7 linked regions of the Homo sapiens genome follow. The protein of the gene in region 1 purifies or fractionates together with the protein of each later gene. This does not show direct contact. Each region holds a gene or a part of one and is shown in the gene's direction. Other genes may lie near its edges.

What was found.
Region 2: the proteins of RPAP1 (region 1) and ANAPC1 purify together in Homo sapiens (affinity purification with mass spectrometry, with the first as the bait; one large-scale study listed by BioGRID). This does not show direct contact.
Region 3: the proteins of RPAP1 (region 1) and MAGED2 purify together in Homo sapiens (affinity purification with mass spectrometry, with the first as the bait; one large-scale study listed by BioGRID). This does not show direct contact.
Region 4: the proteins of RPAP1 (region 1) and KIF11 purify together in Homo sapiens (affinity purification with mass spectrometry, with the first as the bait; one large-scale study listed by BioGRID). This does not show direct contact.
Region 5: the proteins of RPAP1 (region 1) and ELAVL1 purify together in Homo sapiens (affinity purification with mass spectrometry, with the first as the bait; one large-scale study listed by BioGRID). This does not show direct contact.
Region 6: the proteins of RPAP1 (region 1) and MCM10 purify together in Homo sapiens (affinity purification with mass spectrometry, with the first as the bait; one large-scale study listed by BioGRID). This does not show direct contact.
Region 7: the proteins of RPAP1 (region 1) and HLTF purify together in Homo sapiens (affinity purification with mass spectrometry, with the first as the bait; one large-scale study listed by BioGRID). This does not show direct contact.

The regions. Positions count from the first base shown.
Region 1 is NC_000015.10:41,523,758-41,527,257, reverse strand, and holds part of RPAP1 (RNA polymerase II-associated protein 1), read left to right. Parts: coding exon 1-91; intron 92-189; coding exon 190-360; intron 361-2,109; coding exon 2,110-2,267; intron 2,268-3,003; coding exon 3,004-3,162; intron 3,163-3,285; coding exon 3,286-3,487; intron 3,488-3,500. UniProt on the Homo sapiens protein: Forms an interface between the RNA polymerase II enzyme and chaperone/scaffolding protein, suggesting that it is required to connect RNA polymerase II to regulators of protein complex formation.
Region 2 is NC_000002.12:111,863,694-111,867,193, reverse strand, and holds part of ANAPC1 (anaphase-promoting complex subunit 1), read left to right. Parts: intron 1-2,242; coding exon 2,243-2,388; intron 2,389-3,298; coding exon 3,299-3,500. UniProt on the Homo sapiens protein: Component of the anaphase promoting complex/cyclosome (APC/C), a cell cycle-regulated E3 ubiquitin ligase that controls progression through mitosis and the G1 phase of the cell cycle.
Region 3 is NC_000023.11:54,810,745-54,813,629, forward strand, and holds part of MAGED2 (melanoma-associated antigen D2), read left to right. Parts: intron 1-76; coding exon 77-385; intron 386-505; coding exon 506-569; intron 570-829; coding exon 830-909; intron 910-1,412; coding exon 1,413-1,507; intron 1,508-2,200; coding exon 2,201-2,280; intron 2,281-2,373; coding exon 2,374-2,416; intron 2,417-2,743; coding exon 2,744-2,806; intron 2,807-2,885. UniProt on the Homo sapiens protein: Regulates the expression, localization to the plasma membrane and function of the sodium chloride cotransporters SLC12A1 and SLC12A3, two key components of salt reabsorption in the distal renal tubule.
Region 4 is NC_000010.11:92,652,130-92,655,895, forward strand, and holds the end of KIF11 (kinesin-like protein KIF11), read left to right. Parts: intron 1-1,535; coding exon 1,536-1,667; 3' UTR 1,668-3,266; downstream 3,267-3,766. UniProt on the Homo sapiens protein: Motor protein required for establishing a bipolar spindle and thus contributing to chromosome congression during mitosis. Required in non-mitotic cells for transport of secretory proteins from the Golgi complex to the cell surface.
Region 5 is NC_000019.10:7,958,073-7,960,641, reverse strand, and holds the end of ELAVL1 (ELAV-like protein 1), read left to right. Parts: 3' UTR 1-2,069; downstream 2,070-2,569. UniProt on the Homo sapiens protein: RNA-binding protein that binds to the 3'-UTR region of mRNAs and increases their stability.
Region 6 is NC_000010.11:13,185,558-13,189,057, forward strand, and holds part of MCM10 (protein MCM10 homolog), read left to right. Parts: intron 1-606; coding exon 607-723; intron 724-3,323; coding exon 3,324-3,500. UniProt on the Homo sapiens protein: Acts as a replication initiation factor that brings together the MCM2-7 helicase and the DNA polymerase alpha/primase complex in order to initiate DNA replication. Additionally, plays a role in preventing DNA damage during replication.
Region 7 is NC_000003.12:149,069,534-149,073,033, reverse strand, and holds part of HLTF (helicase-like transcription factor), read left to right. Parts: intron 1-1,376; coding exon 1,377-1,451; intron 1,452-1,590; coding exon 1,591-1,782; intron 1,783-3,500. UniProt on the Homo sapiens protein: Has both helicase and E3 ubiquitin ligase activities. Possesses intrinsic ATP-dependent nucleosome-remodeling activity; This activity may be required for transcriptional activation or repression of specific target promoters.

The DNA.
Region 1 (3,500 bases):
GGAGGTGACATACCCAGGACCTGCGGTGGTCCTTGACATCCTGGCTGTGCTCATCCGCCTGGCCCGGCATTCCCTGGAATCAGCCACAAGGGTGAGAAAAAAGGGAGCAGGGAATGGGCAAAAAGCCTAGCTGGGCCTTGTCTTGACCCACAGCCTCCCTTCCTCCCTTTTACCTCCTGTCTCCCATAGGTCCTGGAGTGCCCTCGGCTGATAGAGACTATAGTTCGAGAGTTCTTGCCCACCAGTTGGTCTCCTGTGGGGGCAGGGCCTACCCCTAGTCTATACAAAGTACCCTGTGCTACTGCCATGAAACTACTTCGTGTCCTGGCCTCAGCTGGGAGGAATATTGCTGCCCGGCTGGTGAGCAGGACACAGGGCAAGGGATGGGGGAATGCATGGGACAGGGTTGGGTTGGGAGCTAAACATGGCTCCTGAACTCTGGGTGGCCAGCTCTTGCCATCTTCTTCCTCTCTGATCCAGTTGCTTAGAAATGCAACAGAAATCACCAGGCATGAACCTGTTTACTGGAGCCTGTTTACTGGAGCCTGGTGCATCATATAGGTATACTGTGGTCTCATGATGTAATAGGAGGTCTCCCTGTTCCCTAGACCCAGATCAGAAGGGCTTCATGCACATAGGCATTCATCATCTATAGCCAAGTAGCCCTAGAGAAGGTGCCCAGCAAGCCTTGCTATAAAGAGGGAGGGCTGGGTGTAGTGGCTCAGGCCTGTAATCCCAGCACTTTGGGAGGCCAAGGCAGGAGGATCACTTGGGGCCAAGAGTTCAGGGGCCAGCCTGGACAACATAGCAAGACTCTGTCTCTACAAAAAACAAAAACAAAAAATTAGCTAGATGTGGTAGCACATGACTGTAGTCTCAGCTACTCGGTAGGCTGAGGTAGAAGGATCACTTGAGCTGGGAGGTGGAGGCTGCAGTGGGCTGGTTGCACCAATCACTGCACTACAGCCTAGGCAACAGGGCGAGACCCCGTCTCAAAAATACTACTACTGGCCAGGTGCAGTGGCTCACGCCTGTAATCACAACACTTTGGGAGACCGAGGTGGTGGATCACTTGAGGTCAGGAGTTCGAGACCAGCCTGGCCAATATGGCAAAACCCCACCTCTACTAAAACTACAAAAATTAGCCAGGTATAATAGTGTGCGCCTGTAGTCCCAGCTACTTGGGAGGCTGAGGCAGGAGAATTGCTTGAACCCGGGAGATGGAGGGTGGAGTGAGCCAAGATCACACCACTGCATTCCAGCCTGGGTGGCAGAGCAAGATTCCATCTAAAAACAAATAATAGGGCCGGGCGCGGTGGCTCACACCTGTAATCCCAGCACTTTGGGAGGCCAAGGCAGGTGGATCATGAGGTCAGGAGTTCAAGACCAGCCTGACCAAGATGGTGAAACCCTGTCTCTACTAAAAATACAAAAAATTAGCCAGGCGTGGTGGCATGCGCCTGTAATCCCGGCTACTCCAGAGGCTGAGGCAGAGAATTGCTTAAACCTGGAGGGGCAGAGATTGCAGTGAGCCGAGATTGCGCCACTGCACTCCAGCCTGGGCGACAGAGCGAGACTCCATCTAAAAAAATAATAATAATAAAAATAAAAAAATAATAGGGGCTGGGTGCGGTGGCTCACACCTGTAATCCCAACGTTTTGGAAGGCCGAGGTGGGTGAATCACGAGGTCAGCAGTTCGACACCAGCCTGGCCAACATAATGAAACCCCGTCTCTACTAAAAATACAAAAATTAGTCGGGCATGGTGGCGCATGCCTGTAGTCCCAGCTACTTGGGAGGCTGAGGCAGGAGAGTCTCTTGAACCTGGGAGACAGAAGTTGTGGTGAGCCAAGATCACTCCACTGCACTCCAGCCAGGGCAACAGAGCAAGACTCCATCTCAAAATAATAATAAATAATAAAAAGTAAAATAATAAAATTGAAATTTTAAATAAATAATAAGAAGGAAGGGCAGGGTGGATGAGGTATGACTTTGTGGCACCAGAGGGGCCTGGGTCAGGGTTGAGTTAAGCCACTCTCTGTCCAGCTGAGAGTAGCTGGACTTGAGACTCACAGCTGACCCTGATCCTCAGACTGTGCCCATTTCCAGTTGAGCAGCTTTGATCTCCGGAGCCGCCTGTGCCGCATCATAGCTGAGGCTCCCCAAGAACTGGCCTTGCCCCCAGAGGAAGCTGAGATGCTGAGCACCGAGGCCCTCCGTCTGTGGGCTGTGGCTGCCTCCTATGGCCAGGGCGGTTACCTTTACAGGTGAGGAGAGGCAGGGGGTAGGCTCCCCCTAGACACCTTCAGTTCTGCTCTTCTGGCCAAATCAAACACCTCAGCCTTGCTCAAGGTCCCAAGCTTGGAGGAAGGATAAGAATGAGTGGGAGGGCTTCTGCCAGATGTGAAAAGGCTTAGGAGTCAGGCCCAGCCAGGGAAGAGGGGGATAAACCTGGCTTAACCGTATTCTATGCTCAAAATCATTAGCCGGGCACTGTGGCTCATGCCTGTAATCCCAGCACTTTGGGATGCCAAGGTAGGCGTATCACGAAGTCAGGAGTTCGAGACCATCCTGGCCAATATGGTGAAACCCCGTCTCTATTAAAAATACAAAAATTAGCCAGGCGTGGTGGCACACACCTGTAATCCCAACTACTCGGCAGGCTGAGGCAGGAGAACCGGTTTAACCTGGGAGGCAGAGGTTGCAGTGAGCCGAGATCACTCCATCACTCCACTGCACTCCAGCCTGGGCAACAGAGAATGTCTCAAAAAAAAAAAAAAAAAAGCATTGGTATCTGTGAAATCACATTTAAATTCCCTGTTGGGGGCAGCCTTGAAGGACAACATCCTTTCCATTCTTTAGGGCTGAGCCTTCCAAGAGTGCCCCACTCTTCCTCCTCATCCTCCTTTATCAAACTGCAGATCCCTGGGTCAGGGCCATGACCTGTGTCTCATGTCTCCACTTGCTTTCATACAGTGAAAATCAGTCCCTGTTCTTCCCTAGGGAGCTCTACCCAGTGCTGATGCGGGCCTTGCAGGTGGTGCCGCGGGAGCTCAGCACCCACCCACCTCAACCCCTGTCCATGCAGCGGATAGCCTCACTGCTCACTCTCCTCACCCAGCTAACCCTGGCAGCCGGCAGTACCCCTGCTGAAACCATCAGGTAGTTTATAGCCAGGACCCACAGGACAGGTGGAGGGCTCCTCCACAGGGCTGGGGTGGCTGGAGTGTAAAGGGGCGTGAGGCAGCCAGATCCTCACTGTGGCACCCTTTGGCACTTTTGTAGTGATTCTGCTGAGGCCAGCCTCTCGGCCACCCCTTCCTTAGTCACTTGGACACAGGTGTCTGGGCTCCAGCCTCTTGTTGAGCCGTGTCTAAGGCAGACCTTGAAGTTGCTGTCCAGACCTGAGATGTGGAGAGCCGTGGGCCCAGTGCCCGTTGCCTGCCTGTTGTTCCTGGGAGCCTACTACCAGGCCTGGAGCCAGCAAGTGAGTGCCTCCT
Region 2 (3,500 bases), on another chromosome or scaffold:
TTCAGCCTCCCAAGTAGCTGGGATTACAGGCATGTGCCACCACACTCAGCTAATTTTGTATTTTTAGTAGAGACGTAGTTTCACCATGTTGGTCAGGCTGGTCTTGAACTCCTGACCTCAGGTGATCCACCCACCTCGGCCTCCCAAAGTGCTGGGATTACATCGTGAGCCACCGCACCCAACATAAGAATGGTTTTTACCTTTTAAAGGGTTGTAGGAAATAACAAAGATTATGTGATAGAGTCAGTATGTGGACAGCAAACTGCCCTATTTAGTCTTTGATCTTTTACAGAAAAAGTTCAAATTTTATGTTGTTACTAATTGCAGACAACCCGAATAAACATACTAGAGCCTGGGATTAAATGGCACGCAGCCTTTTTTTTTTTTTTTTTTAAGTACAATTTCCATTTTATTTTTTCTCTGGAGAATAGTCTGTTTTTAGTCGTTTTATTTTCATTTTTTTTTTTTTTGAGACGGAGTCTCGCTTTGTTACCCAGGCTGCAGTGCAATGGCACGATCTCGGCTCACTGCAGCCTCTGCCTCCCAGGTTCAAGCGATTCTCCTGTCTCAGCCTCCCTAGTAGCTGGGATTAGGGGTGTGCCATCACGCCCAGCTAATTTTTTGTATTTTAGTAGAGATGGGGTTTCACCCTGTTGCCCAGGCTGATCTCGAACTCCTGAGCTCAGGCAATCCACCCACCTCGGCCTCCCAAAGTGCTAGGATTACAGACATGAGCCACCACGCCTGGCCTTGTCTTCAGTGTTGAAGGACTCAGCTCCTTACATGGGCTTTGGTGGGTGTGTTTGGTCCTTGTGGGCTTTACAAGGTGGATTCCTGACGACTTTTCTGTGAATTGCACATCTCACACAGTAATTTAGCTTCACATACAGCTTGGGAAGCACATAGGCATTGAAGACACTCGCTTCACAAATGTCCCTGACTGCTGCGGCCTCCACCACATTTCGAATGATGAATTTTTTTTTTTTTTTTGAGACAGAGTCTCGCTCTGTTGCCCAGGCTGGAGTGCAGTGGCGGGATCTGGGCTCACTGCAAGCTCCACCTTCCAGGTTCACATCATTCTCCTCCCTCAGCCTCCCGAGTAGCTGGGACTACAGGGGCCCGCCACCATGACCCGCTAATTTTTTTTATTTTAGTAGAGACGGGGTTTCACTGTGTTAGTCAGGATGGTCTCGATCTCCTGACCTCGTGAGCCGCCTGACTCAGCCTCCCAAAGTGCTGGGATTACAGGCGTTAGCCACCTGCCCAGCCTCGAATGATGAAATTTCTTAATGGCCTTGTCCTTGGGCACACGTCGGGCACAGTTTGTGCAACGAATAGGCTGCATGTGGCTGTGCCCCTTTTTGGCATGATTGTTGTTCCTTCTTTTCTTTGTCATCTTGGAGGCACGGACTGGAGGGAGGAGTGTAGCCATTATTGATCATATTTTTGACTAATATTTAGTGAACTAGAAGTTGCTTATTTGTGATGTCAAGTAGGATACAAATAACACAGTATGATTATAATTTTGTAAAAATGTATAAAGTGTGTATATATGTATGAAAAAAACCAAAAATTCTCTAATGTATTAATAGTAGATATTTTGAGATGGTGGCATGATTTTTATTTATAAAGTATTTCTTATGATTATAGAATCATATTTTAAAATTTTTCAGTATTTTAACTGAGTGGGAAACATTTCCTGTCAAATAAGGATATGGAGACCAGTCCATGGTACTTTAGATTAAAAGCTGAACTCACTGGGAAAAACCTTATTTTGCATGTGTAACTAGTAAAGCAGAAACAACAGTGTACTGTTCGGCACTGTCTGAATAGTAATTATAGAGTACAGCTTTCATACAGAAAAACAGAACCAATAAGGAAGTCAAACTTGGCAGAATAGTTGAGTGCAATTTATAAATAAGTCAGTTGAAGAAATCATCGACCTTTTACCTGTGGCTGATTCGTGTAATGGTGAGAGTCAGCACAAATCTTAACATTTAGCAACAGCATGTATGTGAAGCTAAAACTTGTAATGCTCTCATCTTTAATGTATTTTAAGGAAGTTGATGCCTAAAGTAAATTTATTAAAAATTCAGAGTTAATTATTTAAGATAGTAATAAATTTTGTGCTCTCTTTGGCTTGGTTGTTCTTTATCTTTAACAATTTTAAGAGCTCTGTTCATAAATATCAGTCTTGTAAAGCCCATTGTTCTATACCTGATTTTTCTATTTTATTTTTAAGGTCTTTTTGGTTCATCACGGGTGCAATATGTTGTAGATCATGCAATGAAAATTGTTTTCCTCAATACTGACCCCTCTATTGTAATGACTTATGATGCTGTTCAAAATGTGCATTCTGTGTGGACTCTCCGGAGAGTCAAATCAGAGGTAAGGAGAAAGGCAAGTCACTTCTCCTTAATAGGAAAGGGTAGGCTGGGTGCACTGGCTCACACCTGTAATCCTAGCATTTTGGGAGGCCAAGGCAGGCGGATCACTTGAGGTCAGGACGTTCAAGACCAGCCTGGCCAACATGGTGAAACCCCATCTATACCAAAAATATAAAAAATTAGCCAGGTGTGGTGGCTTCTGTAATCCTATCTACTCGGGAGGCTGAGGCAGGAGAATCACTTGAACCTGGGAGGTGTAGGTTGCCGTGAGCCAAGATCATGCCACTGCACTCCAGCCTGGGTCACAGAATGAGACTCCATCTCAAAAAAAAAAAAAAAAAAAGTATATATATATATGAAAGAGTAGTTAATACTTCATACCCTCACTTTTTTTTTTTTTTTTTGGAAAAATCACTTGTGAATAGTTTTATTATCATCATCATCATCATCATCATCATCATCATCATCATCATCATCTCTAGAGACAGGGCCTCACTCTGTCACCCAGGCTGAAGTATAATGGCACAATTACAGTTCACTGCAGCCTTGAACTCCTGGGCTCAAGTGATCCTCCTGCCTCAGCCTTCCGAATAGCTAGGACTACAAATGTGTACCACCACTCCCAGCTAATTTTTAATTTTTTGTAGAGATGGGATCTTGCTATGTTGCCCAGGCTGGTCTTGAATTCCTTGGCTCAAGCTATCCTCTCTCCTCACCCTCCCAAAGTGCTGGGATTATAGATGTAAGCCACGGCACCTGGCCTCATTTGAGAAATAGATTGAGCTTCTTAGGAAAGAAGAAATACTGTGTCTTTAGTAACTGACTTCAACTTGCATTCTTACAAGGAAATTGCTACTTTATTCTAATTATTGTTTTTTTTTTTTTCCTCTTTCTCTTTATTTTGACTTAAGGAAGAGAATGTTGTTTTAAAGTTCTCTGAACAGGGGGGAACCCCACAGAATGTGGCCACTAGCAGCTCCCTCACAGCACATCTCAGAAGCCTCTCCAAAGGAGATTCCCCTGTGACTTCACCTTTCCAGAATTACTCCTCCATTCACAGCCAGAGTCGCTCAACCTCATCACCCAGTCTACATTCTCGCTCACCTTCTATTT
Region 3 (2,885 bases), on another chromosome or scaffold:
TCCTGGAAGAGATAGGGAGAGGAAAAGGACCACTTGCTTCATCTGGTGACGTTGAGCTTCCTCTCTGTTGATGCAGGTGAAGCATCTGGATGGGGAAGAGGATGGCAGCAGTGATCAGAGTCAGGCTTCTGGAACCACAGGTGGCCGAAGGGTCTCAAAGGCCCTAATGGCCTCAATGGCCCGCAGGGCTTCAAGGGGTCCCATAGCCTTTTGGGCCCGCAGGGCATCAAGGACTCGGTTGGCTGCTTGGGCCCGGAGAGCCTTGCTCTCCCTGAGATCACCTAAAGCCCGTAGGGGCAAGGCTCGCCGTAGAGCTGCCAAGCTCCAGTCATCCCAAGAGCCTGAAGCACCACCACCTCGGGATGTGGCCCTTTTGCAAGGGAGGGTAAGAACTCTGTCGTTTTTATTCTGCCTTTTCTACTGCCTTGGCTGTCCTTTTCTTTGCCATCGTCTCAAGTTTTCTGCAAACTTGTTTTGGTCTTTCCATCTTTTTCTACTCTGCCAGGCAAATGATTTGGTGAAGTACCTTTTGGCTAAAGACCAGACGAAGATTCCCATCAAGCGCTCGGGTAAAGTCCTACCAATCCTCCCTCTGCCCTGAGCTCTGCCCTCCATTGCCCTTACACCATTGTGCTGGGGATATCCCCTGCTCTTATGCTTATGTCTCTGTCCTCCCAAAGTTCTGATTTGGCAGTGCTAGCATCTCTGTTGATAAGCACAGAACCGGGTTATGCCACCCTTGGTGTGGTTGGCAAAGAGTCTATAGCTTGGGCATCAGGGCCACCTGGCATCTCTTCAGTCAGGTGCTCACAACACTCTCCCCTTGCAGACATGCTGAAGGACATCATCAAAGAATACACTGATGTGTACCCCGAAATCATTGAACGAGCAGGCTATTCCTTGGAGAAGGTGAAGGGGCAGCCCTGGGGGATGGGCACAGTGGGGAAGCCTTGAATTGAACAAAAATGTACAAGTCCCTTCTCGGGAACCAAAGAGACCTGCTAATCCAGCTCCATCGCTATGCTGAGGGGCAGACAGTGGCCTAGGGAGGGGTGTAGATTAGCGATGGGTCACACAGCAAGTCAATGGTAAAAGTGCAGCTAGGACCCAAGACACCCAACTTAATCCTGGCTTCTGTCCGTCCATGGCAGCTCCTGCCATGTATTTGAGATTTCACCTCTCCCTTTCATTCCCCATTCTCTGTCTCCCTAGAGTCCCACTCACCACAAAGATGATGATGACAATAGTACATTTGCAGCGTGTTTACCGGGTGCCAGGCACTTAGCTATGTACTTTGTGCGTATTATCTCACTGATTTCTCACACATGCGAAACTCCTAGGTACATAGGGAGCTGCAGCATGCCCCGGAAGCTGAATTTTGTCATCTCACAAGCTGTTCTCCCCATCCACAGGTATTTGGGATTCAATTGAAGGAAATTGATAAGAATGACCACTTGTACATTCTTCTCAGCACCTTAGAGCCCACTGATGCAGGCATACTGGGAACGTAAGCTGGGAAAGGGCTGAGGTGTGGGGGGCTTCTGCTTTGGCCATGTGCTGCTACTCCTCCTTTGTCCTACTTCCCCCATCCTCTTAGAGAGTCAGGAAAGACAGGGTCTCAAAAGCCCCGTCCCAGTTCCTATGCATAGTTGGAGCCCTGCTTACAGTGGTGGCACCTGATTATGATTGACTGGAGGGTGTAGGAGCCTGGAGTGGGACATTCCTGCTGTCAGGTTTGCTGTCTCTGTAGAAGCTTCCCAGGAAAGCAGGCCTGTCGTTGCTTGCCTCTTCCTACTGGGTGCCTGGCCTGGCTTTGGCAGAGTGGTTCTCAAGGAGGGCTTCCTGGTGTGGGTGGATCAGGATGCATGAAGCGCAGGAGTGTCAGTGGGGCTGAAGGTTCTGGGACAGAAAGAAGGGACTCACATTGACTGAGTGCTTGTGTTGTACCAGGTTGGCAGCCATTCTTCCATCTTCTTGGAAACCCAGGGAAGGGAAAATATGATTTTTTCTATTTTACTGAAGAGTAGACTGAGGCTTGCAAGTCTAAGTGCCTTGCCAAGGGTGGCATAGAGCTGGAAGCAGAGACTGGGTAGAATTCTGTATCTGAGGAATCTGGGAGAGGCTAGCCTAGTGAGTTGGCTGGTGTGTCTGTTGCAGATGGCTGCTGAACATAAACCTCTCTGTCCTGTTATTTCTCTAGGACTAAGGACTCACCCAAGCTGGGTCTGCTCATGGTGCTTCTTAGCATCATCTTCATGAATGGAAATCGGTCCAGTGAGGGTGAGTGGCTGGGCTTGCAGCTGAATGGGTGGCTGTGGTCTAGATTCCATGTGTTCAATTTCTGTCCCTGTCTCCTCTTGCCTCCCCTCGCAGCTGTCATCTGGGAGGTGCTGCGCAAGTTGGGGCTGCGCCCTGGGTATGATTGGGCTCTCTCAGCGCTTGCTGTCCGTGTTGTCCTTTGGCAAGAGAGGACGGTCCTAGGATTGCATCAGTCTGGTGGTCTGGTGGAGCGGGTGGGGTGCTGGACTGGGTAGAGGGCCCAGGGTTCTGACCTGGGTGGATGATGGGTGAATGGTCCTGAACTCTCTGCTCCCTCTCTCAGTGTCTCTTGGGCTTCTATGGAGCTTCCCTCTTGTGCTGGAAACCTCTTTTCCATCTTGGAAATGCCTCTGCCCACATCTGGGAAGTGCCATAGCCTTGAGTGAATTTATTTGTTTATTTATTTTTCTTTTTCTTCTCTCAGGATACATCATTCACTCTTTGGGGACGTGAAGAAGCTCATCACTGATGAGTTTGTGAAGCAGAAGTAAGTATCTCTGTCTGGTGTTCATGTGTCCCATGCATTTGGCCTATTTCAGAACTGAGTGATAAAGCCGTGGTGCATG
Region 4 (3,766 bases), on another chromosome or scaffold:
GTATGTCTTGTTTTGTTTTTTTGTTTTTGAGACGGAGTTTTGCTCTTGTTGCCCAGGCCAGAGTGCAATTGCCTGATCTTGGCTCACCACAATCTCCGCCTCCCGGGTTCTAGCGATTCTCTTGCCTCATCCTCCCGAGTAGCTGGGATTACAGGCATGCACCACCACACCTGGCTAATATTGTATTTTTAGTAGAGAAGGGGTTTCTCCATGTTGGTCAGGCTAATCTTGAACTCCCGACCTCAGGTGATCCGCCCGCCTCGGCCTCCCAAAGTGCTGGGATTACAAGCGTGAGCCACCGCGCTCGGCCTGTAACTGTTTTTTAATAGATCTACAGCTCCTTCCCTTAAGGTCTAAAGATTCTCCATCCCTGCTTTCAACAGTTAACAAAGTTCCAACTCAGATTCTCATAAATTCCTCCCTGTCTTCCTCTGGGCAATTTTATTCCCAAATTCTTGCCACCTTTTGCTTTATTCCTTACTATTAGAGAACTATAAATATGTTTCTTTCAGTTTTCATCCTTTTCTTCTATCTTATAAAGTTAGGAAAGGGGGAAGGATAAGAGAACCTGGTGACTACTTAATCCCTGGTCAGAAATCGTTTTATTATTATTATCTGTGGCATTTTGAATTAGGCTTAGTGATTCAGCTATGGCAAGGAAGTCCCTACAGTACCAGAAAGGGTTTGGGATGGGGTTTTAGACCTTCAGCTGAAGTCCAGAAATGATCTTTTCCCTAGTAGCAGTGTGATGTGGGGATTTTCTCTGCGTTTAAAACTTTAAAAGTTGGTTTACAATTTGTCTCAGCATTGATGACTGAGTGTACAATGAATGTCACCAGTCCATTAATGTTCTGTATGGGTAAGTAGGATTCCAATGAAATAGAACTTCCAAATGAGGAATATGAAATAGGTTTTACAAATAAAATAAAATACAATTTTAAAAAACAAGTAAAAGTGTTTTTAAGGTGGCCCATATACCAGTTTCTCTGCTTAAAACAGAATTGGCTTTTCTGCATGACAGCAAATCTTTGTTTCCTTAGAGCAGGGTTTCTTGACAGCAGTGCTATTGGCATTTTAAACTGGATAATTCTTTGTTGTGATGGGCTTTCCTGTGGACTGTACTATGTTGGTACACAAGAAAAACAGTGTACTATGTGAATACTCACTCAAAGCCAGTAGCACTCCCTGATTGTAACACCAAAAAAGTCTCTCAGCATTGCCAAATGTCCCCTGTGGCAGCAGAATCACTCCCTGATGAGAACCACTACCCTGGAGTAAAATCTATAACTATGTCTTAGAAAATAACACAGAAAATTAATATTTCTTTCACTCTACTCCTTCCATTAGTGATCAAATAAAGAAGGCATTTGGCGCTACTTGCCAAATTGTTGGCTCAAACTTGTGCTGAACCTTTTTTGGTTTTCTACACTTAAGTTTTTTTGCCTATAACCCAGAGAACTTTGAAAATAGAGTGTAGTTAATGTGTATCTAATGTTACTTTGTATTGACTTAATTTTCCCGCCTTAAATCCACAGCATAAAAAATCACATGGAAAAGACAAAGAAAACAGAGGCATTAACACACTGGAGAGGTCTAAAGTGGAAGAAACTACAGAGCACTTGGTTACAAAGAGCAGATTACCTCTGCGAGCCCAGATCAACCTTTAATTCACTTGGGGGTTGGCAATTTTATTTTTAAAGAAAACTTAAAAATAAAACCTGAAACCCCAGAACTTGAGCCTTGTGTATAGATTTTAAAAGAATATATATATCAGCCGGGCGCGGTGGCTCATGCCTGTAATCCCAGCACTTTGGGAGGCTGAGGCGGGTGGATTGCTTGAGCCCAGGAGTTTGAGACCAGCCTGGCCAACGTGGCAAAACCTCGTCTCTGTTAAAAATTAGCCGGGCGTGGTGGCACACTCCTGTAATCCCAGCTACTGGGGAGGCTGAGGCACGAGAATCACTTGAACCCAGGAAGCGGGGTTGCAGTGAGCCAAAGGTACACCACTACACTCCAGCCTGGGCAACAGAGCAAGACTCGGTCTCAAAAACAAAATTTAAAAAAGATATAAGGCAGTACTGTAAATTCAGTTGAATTTTGATATCTACCCATTTTTCTGTCATCCCTATAGTTCACTTTGTATTAAATTGGGTTTCATTTGGGATTTGCAATGTAAATACGTATTTCTAGTTTTCATATAAAGTAGTTCTTTTATAACAAATGAAAAGTATTTTTCTTGTATATTATTAAGTAATGAATATATAAGAACTGTACTCTTCTCAGCTTGAGCTTACATAGGTAAATATCACCAACATCTGTCCTTAGAAAGGACCATCTCATGTTTTTTTTCTTGCTATGACTTGTGTATTTTCTTGCATCCTCCCTAGACTTCCCTATTTCGCTTTCTCCTCGGCTCACTTTCTCCCTTTTTATTTTTCACCAAACCATTTGTAGAGCTACAAAAGGTATCCTTTCTTATTTTCAGTAGTCAGAATTTTATCTAGAAATCTTTTAACACCTTTTTAGTGGTTATTTCTAAAATCACTGTCAACAATAAATCTAACCCTAGTTGTATCCCTCCTTTCAGTATTTTTCACTTGTTGCCCCAAATGTGAAAGCATTTCATTCCTTTAAGAGGCCTAACTCATTCACCCTGACAGAGTTCACAAAAAGCCCACTTAAGAGTATACATTGCTATTATGGGAGACCACCCAGACATCTGACTAATGGCTCTGTGCCCACACTCCAAGACCTGTGCCTTTTAGAGAAGCTCACAATGATTTAAGGACTGTTTGAAACTTCCAATTATGTCTATAATTTATATTCTTTTGTTTACATGATGAAACTTTTTGTTGTTGCTTGTTTGTATATAATACAATGTGTACATGTATCTTTTTCTCGATTCAAATCTTAACCCTTAGGACTCTGGTATTTTTGATCTGGCAACCATATTTCTGGAAGTTGAGATGTTTCAGCTTGAAGAACCAAAACAGAAGGAATATGTACAAAGAATAAATTTTCTGCTCACGATGAGTTTAGTGTGTAAAGTTTAGAGACATCTGACTTTGATAGCTAAATTAAACCAAACCCTATTGAAGAATTGAATATATGCTACTTCAAGAAACTAAATTGATCTCGTAGAATTATCTTAATAAAATAATGGCTATAATTTCTCTGCAAAATCAGATGTCAGCATAAGCGATGGATAATACCTAATAAACTGCCCTCAGTAAATCCATGGTTAATAAATGTGGTTTCTACATTAACCTGCTTGCTCCATAATTTCTTATCTGGCAATGGGTATATTTAGAGGGTTAGGCAAGCTGCATTCACATTCCCAAAATAAACTATGCAGGTACCACCAAAGAAGAAGGAGCCTAGTAAACTTGCAGGCTTTTAGTTGCACTCCAAGGGGCTATCCTAGGTGCAAGGTTAGTGAGAAGTAGGCCCTCACACAGCCTGAAGTCCAGCTTTAAGTCATCTCATTCCATGACTGTTTAAGTTATCTGAGAATGCTGATGCAACTAATTTCACTGCCTCACAGAAGCAAAAATAAATCTCCAGATAATTTTAACATCCAGAACCATAAATTAGCTCTACCAATTTTCATACACAATGTCGGGCCCTCAGAATGTAACCAAGAGTAGCATCAGCAAAAATGGCCAAGTAGGTAGCTTCAAGGACCTTTTCCTCCACAGAAACATTGAAAAATCAAGCAAAAACATTCAGAAACAACTTTGTCAGAACCCAGGAAAATAGTTTACAG
Region 5 (2,569 bases), on another chromosome or scaffold:
CCTTTTGACCCGTGTGTAACTTCCTCTGGTAGTTAGACCCCAGGCAGCTCCGAATTTGTGAACCTGCTTCCTGATGAATTCTCCCTTGTTCCCCCTTGGCTCTGCCATTATTTCGTTTTCAGTGTAATTTGCCAAGCCGCAGTTTTCTGTGCTGGCTGTGCCTCTAGTCGCAGCTCTGTGACTGATTCCCTCCCGGGTGCTGAGTCCCCTCCCCGGCCACCATCCTGCGTGAATATCCTGAAATTCATGGGCTTCCTCGGGGGCCCGCCCGCAGGTGGTGCTGGGTGGGTTCCGCCACCTTCTCCTGGAAGGTGAGCCTTTTCCTGGCCAAGGGCAGCTGCCTTAACCTCTGAGAGTCTGCGCTTGGCCTTAGTCCTGGAGACCCAGCCTCCAGGGACTGAACCGTGCTGCTGTTGGGAGCCAAGACCGGCCCTTTGGAGCCGGCAGCCCAGGGGTCCCTGCTGGATCAGAGAAATAGAAGCACCCGAAGACGGTTAGTGGCAATTCCTTGACCCGGTTTGCTTCCAAATGAAGGCCATTTGTCCACCAGGCATTGAAAAGACATGACTTACCCAGTCCGGCATCGGACTTGAAAAATCGAAATTGACATCACTCAGCTGTTACATTTCACATCCGATTCAGCCCCCTTTTATTTCCATGTGCTTTTCGCAGCCTTCCTGTGTTGGATGAAAGAGAATAAGAATTCAGCTGACAGGAGGCCTCTATCCTGTCCCTCCACCCCACCCTCCACCTCAATCCCCTCCCATCTTCCCCAGACCTACCTCACCTACTAGGACCTGAGGCAGCTCCTTAGCAGAGACCCCTGGGGTTTAGCTGACTCTGGGGGTCAGGGGTTCCTGTCCCCAAACTTCGCAAGACAGCCCTGAAGTCACAAGTGCTTTCTTTTAAGTGGCATTGGCAATTGGCGTGTAATGATGGCAGTAGAATCTGAATCTCGGATCCCAGGCAGGGTTCACATTTCCAAACCTTTTTGATTTCCCCTGACCTCTAATGGCTGGATCCTATTTTTCTACAACCTTTCAGTGACATCGTTCAGGTTTCTTTCTTGGCCATTTAAAAAAACAAATTTTTTTTTTCTCACTTGTAAGTCACCGCCAGTACCTAAGTTAGGCTAACGGAGACTTTGACAGGACTGGATTTTTCTTCCACCAGAAGAGAAGCCTTTTCCGTTGGTTTGGGGCCACCTCTTTGACCATGACCATGTGATGTTCCGTTTACAGTGACTTGCTTTGGGGGAGGGGAGGCTCTCTTAACCGATTCCCATGTTGTACAGTAGATGGTTAGACCTTTTGTATATTAGTGTGTTTTAAGTTATTGATTTGTTTTATATAAAATAATTTATTTTTCAGGTGCCATTTTTCATTTTAACTTTGTTTTTACATGGGTTTGTTTTCAATAAAGTCTGACACTGGTGTCCAAAAGTCAACAATAAAATGAATCCCATTGTGTTCTTTTGAAGATGCCTATGTAACTTTTAAGCTTTTTAAATTATTTTCAGAAAAAAAAAAAGAAAAGCCCTTATCAGTTTTCCATCAGCCCATTGCCTTTTTATTTTTTTTTTTTAATCCTTGTGAATAAATGTTCTTTAGTGTTTTAGGAGGAAAAAGCAAACCTAGATTTTGATAACCCAGAAGACTTCAGATTAATAAAGAAGCTTTGAAAGAAGACCATTTTTCAAAATTTTAGTGAAGTGTGAATATTTTTTGTCAATGGCTTTCTCAAAGAGAATGAAACTTTTGCACCATTTTCAGAGTTTTTATAGAGATGCCAAATTGATATATTTACATGTAATGGAAACATGAAAAAGTTTTATTAAACAATTGTTCATAGCTGTGTAGACATTTTAATTCAGTTTCCAAAGCTCTCAAAAAATCGTATTTTTGAAGTACGGAGTGATGCGGTTTGGGGCGTGGCTTACAGTTCCAACGACTCAATTGTCCCGATACTCAGTTCTTTCTACAGGTATCAGGTTCGTGTTAAACGCTGTATGTTAACTATGACTGGAATTCTGTGATATTTTGGTAATAAATGAAGTGGGATCATTGCGATGTGCTGGTGTAGGGGTGATGGTGTATGACTTGTGAGCAGCCCACAGCCCAGTAATAGAGTGCCAGGGGATGGGGACCTCTTCCCTCCGAGGTAAGCCTGTGCCAGGTCCCGGGAGCCCACGAGGGGACACCCAGTTCGGGTGTGCCCTGTGCTGGCTGACCCACGGCCCTTCAGCTCCCACCCAGATGCCCCTCTTCTCCAGGTTCACAGGTCAGTGGGCCCACCGAGTGGCCCCTGGGTATGGCCCCCCTCCATCTGCTTCCCACACCAGTGCTCCCCCAACAGTGACCCGGGGATCCTGCCTCTTCCCTCGTCTGTATGTGGAACCATAGTCACTCCCGAGCCCTGGGGCCATCCTCAGTGTCCCCTCCGTGAGACTGATCTCCTTTGTCTCCTTTGGGATGGGAATGGTTAGGGGTCTCAAGGTCAGAGAGTCCAGGTTCAAATCCTGGCTCTGACACCACTCCCCAGCGTGCCACCCAGGGGAAAGTCCCTGGCT
Region 6 (3,500 bases), on another chromosome or scaffold:
AATGCTAGCTCTAAGGAGTGCTGGGAGAACAGGGAACAGGATCTATGACCTGAGGCTGAGAAGTCAGCCAGCCTAGAGAAAATCAGGATTCCAATCGCAAAGATGAAGGAAAGGATGGAAAATGGGAAAAGAACTGAAGGTGCCTTCTGCATCCCTGTTCCTAAAACGGTTATAGAGCCCTGGCTTCAAATTCCTTTAGACCACTAAAACCTCTCTCCTTTTTGAGACGGCCTCACTCTGTTGCCCAGGCTGGAGTGCAGTGGTGTGATCACAGCTCATTTCAGCCTGGACTTCCCAAGCTCTAGTGATCCTCCCACTTCAGCCCCCCAAGTAACTGGGACTACATGCACGCACTACCATGCCTGGCTAATTTTTGTGGTTTTTTGTAGAGACAGGGTTTTGCCACATTGCCTAGGCTAGTCTCAAACTCTTGGCCTCAAGCGATCCACCTGCCTCGGCCTCCCAGAGTGCTAGGATTATAGGTGTGAGCCACTGCGCCTGGCAATAACCTTCTTAAATCAGCACCAACCATTCTTTTTTCTATTCCTGCTAATAAAAGGCCATAATTTTGTCCGCCTTTAACTCCTGCCCCACCTTTTCTTACAGGTGTGTTTATCTATCGATCATCCTCAGAAGGTCTTAATTATGGGTGAAGCTCTTGACCTGGGAACCTGTAAAGCCAAGAAGAAGAATGGAGAGCCGTGCACGCAGACTGTGAATTTGGTTGGTTTCAGCCTTGTTAGGATGGTTTCTGCTAAAGAAAAGAACAGTTAGGAATAAACTGTTGGTGCTTTAGCTGTGATGACCAGTTTGGAACTGAGTTTCCCACTTAAAGGAAGAGTCAAAATGAGAAAATTTAATGTGTGGTTAATAACTGCCAGTTTAAAAAAGTGAGGGCAGGGGAAAGGTGAGGGGATTTAACCTCTTAGGAAAGTGATCTTTTATCTGACCAAGAAGTTTAAGACAGAATTTTTGTTTGCCTTTAATTCTTGTAATTCCACAGAGCAAACATGATGAAATACAATGAAAATTGTATTTTAGCCTATATTTTAACTCCATTATACCTTTTCTTAGGGCTTTTTAAAAAATAATAGCTTCATTTAGGTATAATTCACATACCATGCAATTCACCCTTTTAAAGTAAGCAATTCAGGCCAGGTGTGGTGGCTCACTCTTGTAATCTCAGCACTTCGGGAGGTCGAGGCGGACAGATCATCTGAGATCAGGAGTTTGAGACTAGCCTGGCCACCATGGTGAAACCCCATCTCTACTAAAAATACAAAAATTAGGCGGTCATGGTGGTGGGCGCCTGTAGTTCCAGCTACTCAGGAGGCTGAGGCCAGAGAATCACTTGAACCTGGAAGGCAGAGGTTTCAGTGAGCTGAGATCGCACTATTATACTCCAGCCTGGGCGATAGAGTGAGATTCTGTCTCCAAAAAAGAATATAAATAAATAAAGTCAACAATTCAGTAATTTCTAGTACATTCACAGAGCTGTGCAACCATCACCACTGTGTAATTTCAGAACCCTTTCATTGCCCCAGAAAGAAACCCAGTACCCACTAGCAATCACTCCCCAGTCTCCTCTCCCCCAGCCCCTGGTAAGCACTAACCTACTTTCTGTCTCTATGGATTTGCCTCTTCTAGACATTTCATATAATGGAATCACAATATGTGGCCTTTTCTGTCTGGCTTCTTTTGCTTAGCATAATTTTTCTCACAATTGATCCGTGCTGTAGCATTTATCAACACTTTATTCCTTTTTGTGGGTAAATAATATTCCATTGTATGGATATACCATACGTTGTTTATTCTTTCATCAGTTGATACACGCTTGGGTTGTTGCCACATTTAGCTATTATGAATAATGCTGCTAAAACACTCACATACAAGTTTTTATGTGGATGTATGTTTTCCACTCCCTTGGGCATATACCTGGGAGTGGGATTGCTGGGTCAACATGGTAACTGTCCAGAGTTTGGAGGAACTGCCAGACTGGTTTCCCAAGTGGCCCACCAGCAATGGATGAACTTTCCAGTTTCTCCCTGTCCTCATCAGCACCTGTTACTCTATTTCTTTTTTGTTATAGCCATTGTAGTAGGTGTGAAGAGGTACTTCTTAGAGTTCTTTGAAAGGATTAAATGACAGGTTTTGGTTTAATCTTTTTTTATTCCCTTATTCCTTCCTATTAGATTAATTGGTGGACAGGAAAGAATAAGGTGGGAGACGGTTGGAAAATGAGGTTTCAGAGTGAAGTACCCAACAGATCTCCCCGTGAGAATTAGATTCTTAAAAATCCATTGTCTGGATGGGGCGGTGGCTCACACTTGTAATCCCTGCACTTTGGGTGGCCGAAGTGGGCCGATCACTTGAGGCCAGGAGTTCAAGACCAGCCTGGCCAACATGGTAAAACCCCGTCTCCAGTAAAAATACAAAAATTAGCTGGGCGTGGTTGTGCACACCTGTAATCCCAGCTACTTGGGAGGCTGAGGCAGAAGAATCACTTGAACCTAGGAGTTGGAGGTTGCAGTGGGCCAGGATCACGCCACTGCACTCCAGCCTGGGTGACAGAGCGAGACTCTGTCTCCAAAAAAAAATCCATTGTCGCCGTAACTACTGTTCACCCAGCAGAACAATGCTGCACCATCTCTCTTTGTTTCTTTCACTGAAAGGATAGCACTTGTCCGAGGATCAACCAGAGAAACAGCTAGAAAAACCTCGCTGGGAGCTGATTTTGTTTTTAAATTATTTTTTATTGGGTCAAAATTCACAATATACAGTTAATCATTTTAAAATACATATATAATTCAGTGATATTTAGTTGTGTAACCACCAGCTCCCTGGTTTCAGAATTCCATCACCCTGTAAAAACAATGGCACCATAAAGTCATCACTCCCATCCCCACTCCCTCCGTCTCCTGGTGACGTCTAATCTGCTTTCTGTCTCTATGGATTTGCCTCTTCTATAAAAACTTCCTTTTATATTAAATAACATAGGTCCTATATTAAATAACATAGGACCTTGTGTGTCTGACTTCTTTCACCTAACTTGTTTTCAAGGTTCATCCTAAAAGCTGATTTCCTTTGTAGAAAGAGGGCAAGGGGTATTTCACCAGAACAGTGCTTTCAGGGGACTCGAAGGGAAGAACTTCTTCCCCTCAGGGACTGAGCAGCCCTTCCACATTGGGAACGGTCGTGGAGGTCAGCAGGGAGGACTCTGCATGCGTCATGTTCCGGGAAGTGGGGAGAAGGAACTGTGTCTGCTCACTGCTGTTTCCCAGCCTGTTGCCCTCATCCTGATGCCACTGCTCTGCCTTTTGCAGCGTGACTGTGAGTACTGTCAGTACCATGTCCAGGCTCAGTACAAGAAGCTCAGCGCAAAGCGTGCGGATCTGCAGTCCACCTTCTCTGGAGGACGAATTCCAAAGAAGTTTGCCCGCAGAGGCACCAGCCTCAAAGAACGGCTGTGCCAAGATGGCTTTTACTACGGAGGGGTTTCT
Region 7 (3,500 bases), on another chromosome or scaffold:
ATAAATCCATACGTGAACATTTGTACCCAACATACAAAACACACACGTTCCTGTTTATGCACGGCATATTTTTGTATCTGAAATGTTTTAAATGTTCAAGTAGTAATTTTAAGAAAAAAATTGAAGCTGAGACTTAACTCCTTTCAGTAATTTTGCAAATGCAGTGCTAAAGATTTAACTCCAAATTCTTCACATTGTCTAATTTGTAATTTAGGATGAGTTATGCTGAATTTCTTTGAAAAAAAAGTATATAAAGTAATTAATGCAGATCAATTTAAAAATAACATTAAAACTTTTTTGATGTTTGTATCTACCAGTGTTAGTCCTTTTATCTACTAATTGTAGTTACCATATTTACCCTGCTTATTGTTAGAAGGACTTGAGCTTGTTTCTGGTAGATAAGCCCCCGGTTACTTCTGATTTTTTAGACCTGGCCTGATTTCTTCTGAGCTGCTGCTGTGTTCATGTGTTAATTTTCAAAAATATCTGTATCACATATATGTTGATATAAAATTGGACTAACCTAGTTTAAATAGTCAATTAAGTTAGCATAATAATAAAAGTATCCTATAGTGCATGGCAAGTTCCTTATTGCAGTAATAATAAATGGAATGTCATTGACCTGGTAGGACTGAGAAAATATTTTGAATACAACTGATAGCATCACAGAATTTTAATGGCAGAAGGAACCTTAGAGACAATCTAAATTTAGTTCATCCCTTTCATTTTATAGGAATAAGACATGGGGCCATAAAGGTCAAGTCTTGCTGAAACTTACATATAAGCTTATTTGTGATAAAACTGTGACTGAAACTCGGGACTTAAAATTCTTTTATATTCTTTTACCTCCTAACAACTAAAGCACCTGTTCATTCGCTCTTCAGTGAGTAGTGTAATTCTAGAGTTGATTTATGTGCCTTTTTGGCGTTTGACTAGTTTGTGGTTTTTAAATTTAATTTAATTTCAATTTCTTAATTTTTTGGGACAGGGTCTCACTTTCTTGCCCAGGCTGGAGTGCAGTGGCATAATCATGGTTCACTCTATCCTCTACCTACTAGGCTGAAGTGATCCTCCCATCTCAGCATCCCTAGGAGCCAGAACTACAGGCATGCACCCCCATGCCTGGCTAATTTTTTAAAAATTTTTTTGTAGAGATGGGATCTCTCACTATGTTATCCAGGCTGGTCTCAAACTCCTGAGCTCAAGTGATCCTCCCACCTTGGTCTCCCAAAGTGCTGAGATTATTGGCATGAGCCACCACTCCTGGCCCGTTTGACATTAACGCCAGTTAATTAAATGATTTCAAATCTGACTTAAATGCAAGTATTATTTTAATTAGTTTGTTTTACATTGTTTCTTGTTGCTGTTTATTGTAGCTTAAAACAGAATTTGACAAATTGTTTGAAGATTTAAAAGAAGATGATAAAACCCATGAAATGGAACCAGCTGAGGTATTGAACCAATATTTTTTATTTAAGACTACTCAGAATGTTTAAATATACTTAGAATCTACTTTTTGTTTAATCACAGGATCTGCATGTGAAAAAGGAATGGCTTAATGTATTTCGCTTTATGACTTTTTATTTATAGGCTATTGAAACACCACTGCTTCCACATCAAAAACAAGCTCTAGCTTGGATGGTGTCACGGGAAAATAGCAAAGAACTTCCACCATTCTGGGAACAGCGAAATGACTTATACTATAACACAATAACAAATTTTTCTGAGAAGGACCGACCAGAAAATGTCCATGGAGGAATTTTAGCTGATGATATGGGTTTGGTAATTATTTTTTTCTTTAGTTAATAAAATCTAATTTTGTGATTATGATTTTCTAGAAAGTAATTTTGAAGTAAAAAGAGATAGGAATATGTTGGTACCAGTTTGGGACTAGATCTTACTATCTTTGTAGAACACAGTTTTTCCTGTAGTTTTTAGTTAAAATAGTGGTATAAAGATGTGTTCCTCAGTTTTCTTTTTTTTTTTTTTGAGATGGAGTCTTGCTCTGTCACCCAGGCTGGAGTGCAGTGACGCGATCTTGGCTCACTGCAGCCTCCGCCTCCCAGGTTCAAGCAGTTCTCCTGTCTCAGACTTCCAAATAGCTGGGATTACAGGCATGTGCCACCATGCCCAGCTAATTTTTGTATTTTTAGTAGAGACAGGGTTTTACCACGTTGGCCAGGCTGGTTTTGAACTCCTGACTTCAAGTGATCCGCCCGCCTTGGCCTCCCAAAGTGCTGGGGTTACAGATGTGAGCCACCCTGCCTGGCCATGTTTCTCAATTTTCTTTGCTCTTTGAAATTCAGGGTGACCTGTCTTTCATAGGTTTTCTTTTAAAAAGTAAAGACAAAACAATGTTATGTGAAATTGTATTCCATCACAAATATTGTGTTATGCAGAGTATTAAATAGATACTTATGTGTCCTTACACTAGCAGTTTTTATATTTTTCAGTCTCAGTAACCCTTTCTACTCATAAAAATTACTGATTTCAAAGAGCTTTTGCTTTTGTGTGCTGTTATCAGTAGTTATAGTATTAGGCAGTGGTAGCTAAAGATAGCAGTACAAACTCATTGCTTGTTAACATAAATAGCATATTTTTAAAAGAAAAATAACTATGCCAAAACATTAACATTTTTGTTGCAACAACTGGCATTGTCACATTTTTGCACATCTCTGTGTTTGGCCGAATAGATGGCAGCTGAATTCTCACCTGCTTCTTCATTCAGTCTGTTCTGTTAGGTTGTTTTGGTTGAAGTATATGAAGAAAATTTGTCCTTACGACGGTATGTTGCTGTAAAGAGAGGAGTATTGTAATAGCTTTTTAGATAATTGCAGATTTCTTTGATATACTGCATCAAAATTCAATAAATATTAGTTTATTAAAGGTTAATTGTTGTAATATGGAACGCTAAATCATATCAGTGAGCTTTTTATACCCTGTTTTGTTAAAATCTATTTGTGTATCTTGCTCATTGAATGAATATTTTACCCATGTATGATTTTATAACACCAGGCATTGCTCATTTAGAAAATGTTGGTTCATTGAGTTGGGCAGACCTACTAAATGTTGATGTATTTCATATGCAATATCCAAAACTTACATTCATTAATATTACCACTGATGTTATTAGAAAATCATTTACATTTTGGGAAGGCACTATGTTCATAGTGTCACACACAACTTTTCCAACATTCTAATTTTCTATTGAAAACTCACATTTTATCATTGACAAGCTCAGTTGTTTCCTTTGTAGATGACAGCCTCACTTTGTTCATTTTCTAGAAAGTATCTTTCAGACACTCAGTCGTGATTGATAGTTGTCATTCAAGTAAAAATGGTGTCGCATGAAAAAAGTGACTAGTTGAGCTTATAACTCCCATCTTGAGTGATTTTTCTCTAGCTAACCCTCATAGTTTGATATGCAACAGAAGTAGTTAATATGTAGTTTCCATTTCACTACACAGAATATTAAAAAGATTTGTACTGAAGTAATGAGA